2 linked regions of the Homo sapiens genome follow. The protein of the gene in region 2 interacts with the protein of the main gene of each other region in a biochemical or structural test. Each region holds a gene or a part of one and is shown on either strand. Other genes may lie near its edges. The genes, in order: IRAK2 and ARAF.

The links.
Region 1: the proteins of ARAF (region 2) and IRAK2 form a complex in vitro, tested with the Homo sapiens proteins (one study listed by BioGRID).

What each region holds. Positions count from the first base shown.
Region 1 is NC_000003.12:10,216,776-10,220,590, forward strand, and holds part of IRAK2 (interleukin-1 receptor-associated kinase-like 2), read left to right. Parts: intron 1-158; coding exon 159-273; intron 274-436; exon of another isoform or gene 437-544; intron 545-2,904; coding exon 2,905-3,014; intron 3,015-3,815. UniProt on the Homo sapiens protein: Binds to the IL-1 type I receptor following IL-1 engagement, triggering intracellular signaling cascades leading to transcriptional up-regulation and mRNA stabilization.
Region 2 is NC_000023.11:47,567,415-47,571,229, forward strand, and holds part of ARAF (serine/threonine-protein kinase A-Raf), read left to right. Parts: coding exon 1-18; intron 19-1,303; coding exon 1,304-1,480; intron 1,481-1,572; coding exon 1,573-1,619; intron 1,620-2,124; coding exon 2,125-2,243; intron 2,244-2,478; coding exon 2,479-2,610; intron 2,611-3,463; coding exon 3,464-3,598; intron 3,599-3,815. UniProt on the Homo sapiens protein: Involved in the transduction of mitogenic signals from the cell membrane to the nucleus. May also regulate the TOR signaling cascade. Phosphorylates PFKFB2.

The sequences.
Region 1 (3,815 bases), on a different chromosome or scaffold from region 2:
TCCACCCTGGGGCCAGGCCCTTAGGGGTCAGAGTATGTGGTACCTGGGAGGTTATTGGTGGCGTTGGAGGAGGAGAGGGCAGAAGAGGGGTGGGACATGAGGAAGTAGATCATTCTTTCCGTCTGACTCCTCACACCTGCACTGACGCCCGATTCCAGATGCTGCCACCCCAATGTCTTACCTGTGCTGGGCTTCTGTGCTGCAAGACAGTTTCACAGCTTCATCTACCCCTACATGGCAAATGGTTCCCTACAGGACAGACTGCAGGGTCAGGTAAGGGACTGGGTCATGGTCAGAGAATGGGACCAGGCTGCACCCAGCCATGGGGTCAAGGGTTAAGGACTTACAGAAGTTCAGAGGGGAGAGGGGCCATCTAGGTGAGACCAGGGAGACTTCAAGGAGAGAAGTGGGGCCAGGATACATAAGATCTGGTTAAGTGCTCACTTTGGCAGCACATATACCAAAATTGGAACGATACAGAGAAGATCAGCATGGCCTCTGAATGAGGATGACAAAATATGAAAAAGAAAAAGAAAAGCTCAAAAAGATCTGATTAAACATCTTCAGGAAAAATCTATAAAAAATTATTTGACGAGAAGCATTTCATTCAAATCAAGAGCAGGACAAAGGTATCTCATAGAACTAACTTCGTTCGTCATGGTTCTGGAGGTGTTAGCCAATGCAGTAGGACAAGAAAAAGAATTAAGAGGTAAAGAGTATGGAAAAGTGGAGGTGAATTTTTATTATAAAATGTTCTTCTAATATATACCTATTTGCTTGTGTGTTTATGGAATGTCTCTGGAAAGATACACAAGAAACTGGTTTACTGGCTGCTGCTAGGGAGCAGAACTAGGTGATTGGGGCCTAGGATAAGAAGCAAACTTACTATTAGAGTATTATATCATGTGAAGGTAATCCTTAATAAAAATTACAGTGTTTTAAAACAGGTCTTCTGCTTATCTTATCCTCAAATAGAGGGGAAAGAGTTATTCCATAACAGAATTATTGCTTCCCATGGCAGGGACAAGACAAAGCAGTTACTCACGGCATACTAATGATCTTTAGCTTTTCTGGGCACTCACTGTATGCAGGTTGCTGTGATAAGGGTTTTACGTAGGTCATCACCTCCAGGCCGTGCCACAACCAAAGCAATTTCTTCCCTCATTTTTCAAAAGAGGAATCTCTGACACATAGAGACAAAGTGACTTGCCCAAAGGAACATAGAGGACAAATGTCAGGCCAGAGCTTACATTGGGTTCGTCTGGCTCTAGGTTTCAGAGTTTTTGAGAAGAAATTAGCAGGGGCTGTCCAGGCCAGTTCTTAGAGGATGTGGGACCTACACCAGGGCTTCAAAAATAGGTGATGAGGCTGGGCACAGTGGCTCACGCCTGTAATCCCAGTACATTGGGAAGCCGAGGTGGGTGGATCACTTGAGGTCAGGAGTTTGACACCAGCCTGACCAATATGGTGAAACCCTGTCTCTACTAAAAATATAAGAATTAGCCAGGCGTGGTGGCGTGTGCCTGTAGTACCAGCTACTGAGGAGGCTGAGACAGGAGAATCACTTGAACCCGGGAGGCAGAGGTTGCGGTGAGCCGAGATTGCACCACTGCACTCCAGCCTGGGCGACAAAGTGAGACTCCGTCTCAAAAAAAAAAAAAAAAAAAAAACCAAAACGGTGATGATTTAGCCTGGGAGAGTCAGTCTTAGAACAACAGTGGGAGCAAATGAGAGGCTTTAGCCCATCCCACAATCCCCATCAGCCCTGGTGAAGTTTCCCCTAATACAGATAAAATCAGCGTAAGGCCCAGGTGCTTGGCTTGCAAACACAAGCTCCCTAGCTCCTCTCCCATCCAGCTTCTTTTAGAGAGAAATTCCAGAGCAGCCTCTGTAATGGACATGATAAAAATAACTGCTGATTGAGCACCTACTGTGTGGCAGGTGCTATGCTAGGGGTATACCATATACTCCCTTGAATCCTTACAGCAACCCTAAAATATAGGGATTAACATTTCCATTTTATACCCAAGGAAACTGAGGCTCAGAGATGTTAAGTGTCTTTTTCCAAAATTATACAGCTAATGCATGTCTGAACTGGGAGTTACACCTAGATCTGTCTGATGTCAAAACCCATAGTACAGGGTCAGGCACATGGCTCATGCCTGTAATTCCAGCACTTTGGGAGAGCGAGGTGGACGGATCGCTTGAGCCCAGGAGTTCGAGACCAGCCTGGCCAACATGGCAAAACCCTGTCTCCACGAAAAATACAAAAATTAGTTGAGAGTGGTGGCACGTGCCTGTGATCCCAGCTATTCGGGAGTCTGAGGCGGGAGAGTCACTTCAGCCTGGGATTTTAAGGCTACAGTGAGCTATGATGCTGCACTCCAGTCTGGGTGACAGAGCAAGACCTGTCTCAAAACCAGCAAACACAAAACAATGAAAAAACTCACAGTATCATGCTGAGCCCTGTGACAGAGGACATGAAGGGTGGGAGGAGGATCAGGAGCCTGGGACCCTGCCATCAGGACTTCGTTTTTTTGTTTTTGTTTTTGTTTTTTTTTGAGATGGAGTCTCGCTCTGTCACCCAGGCTGCAGTGCAGTGGTGCAATCTCGGCTTACTGCAAGCTCTGCCTCCTGGGTTCACGCCATTCTCCTGCCTCAGCCTCCCAAATAGCTGGGACTACAGGCAGCCGCCACCAGGACCGGCTAATTTTTTGTATTTTTAGTAGAGATGGGGTTTCACCGTGTTAGCCAGGATGGTCTCGATCTCCTGAACTAGTGATCTGCCTGCCTGGGCCTCCCAGTGTGCTGGGATTACAGGTGTGAGCCACCGCACCTGGCTGCCATCAGGACTTTAAAAAGGTACATTGTGACTATTTGTCCTCCTGCTTTTCTTTCTCTTAGGGTGGCTCGGACCCCCTCCCCTGGCCCCAGCGTGTCAGCATCTGCTCAGGGCTGCTCTGTGCCGTCGAGTACCTGCATGGTCTGGAGATCATCCACAGCAACGTCAAGAGGTGAGAGAGGTGGGCTGGACCCTGCTGGGGCCTGGGCTGCAAGGGTGGAACTGGTGCCTATTCCTGGCTCACCTCCCGCTCCGCCACTCACCCCTGTCCTCTTTGTTTTTCTCTTCCTACCTCCTCTCCTCTGCCCTCCCCTGGATGTCTTTTTCTCTGTTATGCCCTCAAAAATGAGTGTTTCCGGGCTGTGCTCCAAGTCCAATTGCTCTCAGGATGAATTGCCTACCTGTCACATTTGTCTTTCTGAGCTGCTGTTTTCCCAACAAGCCCTCCACACCTTGCTGCGTCGCACTGTCCACTCAGCAGCTGGCCTGGACCTCATCCTCGAACTTTGGGCCATGTCTGCCAACCCCCTGGGATTTTGAGCTCCTCGTTCAGTGTCTTTTCTGAGACCTGTCCCCTTCTTGTGTAGCTGTTGGTGTTAGCATCTTGTCTGGAAGGCTCCTGCAGGTTAGGCCTGCACCCCTGCATGTCAGTGCCATGCACATGAGAGGGAGAGGTCCCCATCTGGAGACGGTTAGGATAGGGAGGGATTCCGAAGATACCAGAATATCTGGCAGAACTGGCTCCAGAGACACAGAACTCGTATTTCCCCAAAGTTCTCTTTCCATTTGACTTGTGGAAGTCCTTTCCTCTTTTCTCTCCCCCAATTTTTTTTTTGTTTTTTGAGACGGAGTTTCACGCTTGTCACCCAGGCTGAAATGCAGTGGTGCGATCTCAGCTCACTGCAACCTCCACCTCCCTGGTTCAAGCGATTCTCCTGCCTTAGCCTCCTGAGTAGCTGGGATTACAGGTGCT
Region 2 (3,815 bases):
TGAGATGCAGGTGCTCAGGTGAGGTGGCATGTGTGCGTGGATGGGGGTGGCAGGCCCGGCCTTGGCATCTCTCTGGGAAAAGGCCATGCTTGGAGTGCTTCCTGGACATCACCTGTGTTTGTGTTGTTAAACCATCATCAGAAGTTGTTTCTCTCTGAAGGGTGTCCCTTTCCCCTCTGGGAAATGAGTATGTTTAGAGGACCTGTGATCATGCAGTTGTTTGTGTTTGGGTTATTAATGAATGGTTCTGCCTCCAAAATGTGGGTCTTCTCATTTGCCTGCTGCGAACTGGGTCTGTGTGTGGGCCACCATTCTTGTTACTGCATTGCCAGGAAGGCTTCCATCTTTCCTTCCCCTCTGCTTGGGCTACAATGGTAATGTTCTGTTTATAGTGTTGGTTCTTGTTATTCATTAATTCTAATACCTTGATTTAAACAATATTATCATCATCACCATAATCTAATCATTGCTTAATTATTATAATTGCTGTAATATGTAATCAATACAGTATTCATCTAGTCACGCTAAGAAAGCCAGGTGTCTCCTTTTTGCTGCTATAGTTACTATGTAGCATAGTACTGTATACCTATATACTACAGGTAGTACTGGATAGCGTCTACCAACCCTGGGGATGTTGGCATTGGCTTTTCCTCTGTGTCAGATGGGCACAATTATGTTACAGAGAATAAGGTAGCTAATGCAATGATCAGTTTTACAGTTGAGGAACATGAGGCCCAGAGAGGTTAAATGTCTTTCCCAAGGTTGTACCTTGAGTACCTGGTGAGGCCTAGATTTGAACATGAGTCCAGACTCCAAGCTCTTTACCTCTAAGCTTCTCATGCTGCTGAACAGGCTCTAATCATCATATATCACCAATGTTTTAATCCTGCATCTATCCATATTATATTGATACATCAGTGAGGAAGGTTGGCATTCTGCTTTCTCATCTGTGAGATGGTCACAGACCCAGGTAATGGTCAGAGTCAGAGGGGTGGGGGATGTTAATGATTAGAAATGCTGCTGTAGGCAGGGAGGGGGAGGGGCAGCAATTCCTCCCTCCTGCTTTTGTTGGGAGACTCGGATGGGGAAGCTCCACATATGAGCCCACAGCACAGAATCATAGCCCAGTAAACACATCTCACAAATTCATGGAATCTGGCAATGCTTTGGTCCTGAGTGCCCCAAAAGACAGGGTGAAAATAAATGACCGAGGAAGGTAAAGAACAGTGCCACTCCTGATGCTCGGTAAGTGACAGTTGCTATTTTTCCTCCCCACCTCTGACACTGCCCTCCCTGCCTGCAGGAAGACGCGACATGTCAACATCTTGCTGTTTATGGGCTTCATGACCCGGCCGGGATTTGCCATCATCACACAGTGGTGTGAGGGCTCCAGCCTCTACCATCACCTGCATGTGGCCGACACACGCTTCGACATGGTCCAGCTCATCGACGTGGCCCGGCAGACTGCCCAGGGCATGGAGTGAGCCTCCCAGCCTGGGGAGGGGTGGGGGGAAAGGGTGGGGGAAATGAGGTAACCCCCAGCCAATCCGCCACCTGCCTCCACCCCCACAGCTACCTCCATGCCAAGAACATCATCCACCGAGATCTCAAGTCTAACAGTATCTATCTGTCCCTGGGCTGGGGTTGAGTGGGGGTGTCAAGGGCTTAGAAGGATGCCTCTTGTGGGGGTTCTGGGAATTACAAGGGAGGGGCATGTGTCCCAGAGCTCCTTGCCAGGTGGCAGAGCTGTGGCCAGCCAGGGGGCTTTAATGGCAGTCTCTTAGAAGTCAGAGGTGTGGCTGGTTCAGGTACTATTCTTGGGGACTCTGGTTAGAGTCTGATGTCTGACAGTTGTGGAGGGCATTATGGTCAACATCAGAGGCATAGTGGGTTCGGATGCCCTCCGAGGGGCTTCCTGTTCAGGAGTCACAGCGGGGCTGAGTGTGGGGGGCATTAGCAGGCGTTCCCTGCCCACGTCAAGGTTGTGGATAGTTTGCGTGATATTAAGGGGCTCCTGGTCAGGATCAGAGGGATGAGTGGTATAGGGGCACCAATGGGAACCTCCCAGGCAGGGTGAGAGGCATGGCTATTAGGAGTCCCTGTAGTGGTCCTTGACCCTGGCGGACATCTTCCTACATGAGGGGCTCACGGTGAAGATCGGTGACTTTGGCTTGGCCACAGTGAAGACTCGATGGAGCGGGGCCCAGCCCTTGGAGCAGCCCTCAGGATCTGTGCTGTGGATGGTGAGTTGGGCCAGGCTGGATGGGGGGCACATGGGGACGTGGGCTCCGGGATTGGGGTGTGTGGGGCCAAGTGGGGACGGGGATGCCTGTGCCAGATGTGGGTGTCTGGACTCCTCATGTCCCACCTCGTGTGGGTGGCTCTGAGTTGTACCCTGTGTGGCCAGTGGGATCTGGGACTGTGGACCAGCCATTTGCTGACCTCCGTGGTCCCCCTGCCTGGTCTGGCCTGTTGTAGGCAGCTGAGGTGATCCGTATGCAGGACCCGAACCCCTACAGCTTCCAGTCAGACGTCTATGCCTACGGGGTTGTGCTCTACGAGCTTATGACTGGCTCACTGCCTTACAGCCACATTGGCTGCCGTGACCAGGTGAGCCCCACACCTTACCCACAGTTCCCTGGGCTGAGGGATCCCCTCAGGCATCCATACCCCACATCCCCTCCTTTGCACTGATAAATGCCACACTTTCCCCAGAAACCTAAAATTTTCTAGGATAAGGACTCCCAGAATCCCTTGGGCTCCAGACACTTACAATAAATTCTCTGGGTCTCCCCTACCCCAACTTCCCTCTTCTCACATCCACAGCCCTCTGGGACAAAAATCTTTGAAGTCCAAAATGCCCCGAATCTCTATACCTAGAATCCCCTGAGGCCCCCAAATACCCCAAAGCCCTCTGTATCCCTAGACGCCTATAGTCGTCTGCTCTGGGTACTCAAAATCCCCCAGATCCTCAAAGCCCAGATCTCATTTCTCCCAGCATCCCATTTTTCCCCAGAAACAGAACCCCTTTGTGCTTCTGGAATAGTCATGGACACCCACAGTCACCTAGGCCTTGGGTATCTAGCAGGCCCCAGGGCCGGGATACCTAGAACCCTCTAGGCCCCAGACCCCCACAGAAGTACAAGCTCCCCCAGACCCAGAACTCCATGTTTTCCCGAGACTCAGTACTTTCCAGGTCCCTAAGCCTCCTAGAAACCCGTGGGCCTATAATCCTCTGAGCCCCAGATACCTACAATCCTTGACAACCCCAAATTTAAATCCCTCTGTTCTGAAAGCAGAGAATCCTCCCAAGTCCTCAAGGACAGAGAATCCTCTGGGCCTTGATACTGACAGTACCCCAGCTCGCTAAAAATGAACCTTCCAAGTCCCTCAATACAAAATTCCTTGGGCCTCCCAGCCCCTGACCCCAGATCACCCCTTTCCTGCCCCCGTCTGCCCCCAGATTATCTTTATGGTGGGCCGTGGCTATCTGTCCCCGGACCTCAGCAAAATCTCCAGCAACTGCCCCAAGGCCATGCGGCGCCTGCTGTCTGACTGCCTCAAGTTCCAGCGGGAGGAGCGGCCCCTCTTCCCCCAGGTGGGCTGGGTAGGGGGCTGGACACCTTGGGTGGGTGACTCTGGGATAGAGGAAGACTGAGATGGAGGCAGATGTGAATATGAAAGCTCAGAGGTATAGTGTGTGTGTGTGTGTGTGTGTGTGTGTGTGTTTCACCATGAGGCTGGGACTGTTGGGGGTGTGTGTGTATGTGTGTTTCGCCATGAGGCTGGGACTGTTGGGTGTGTGTGTGTGTGTG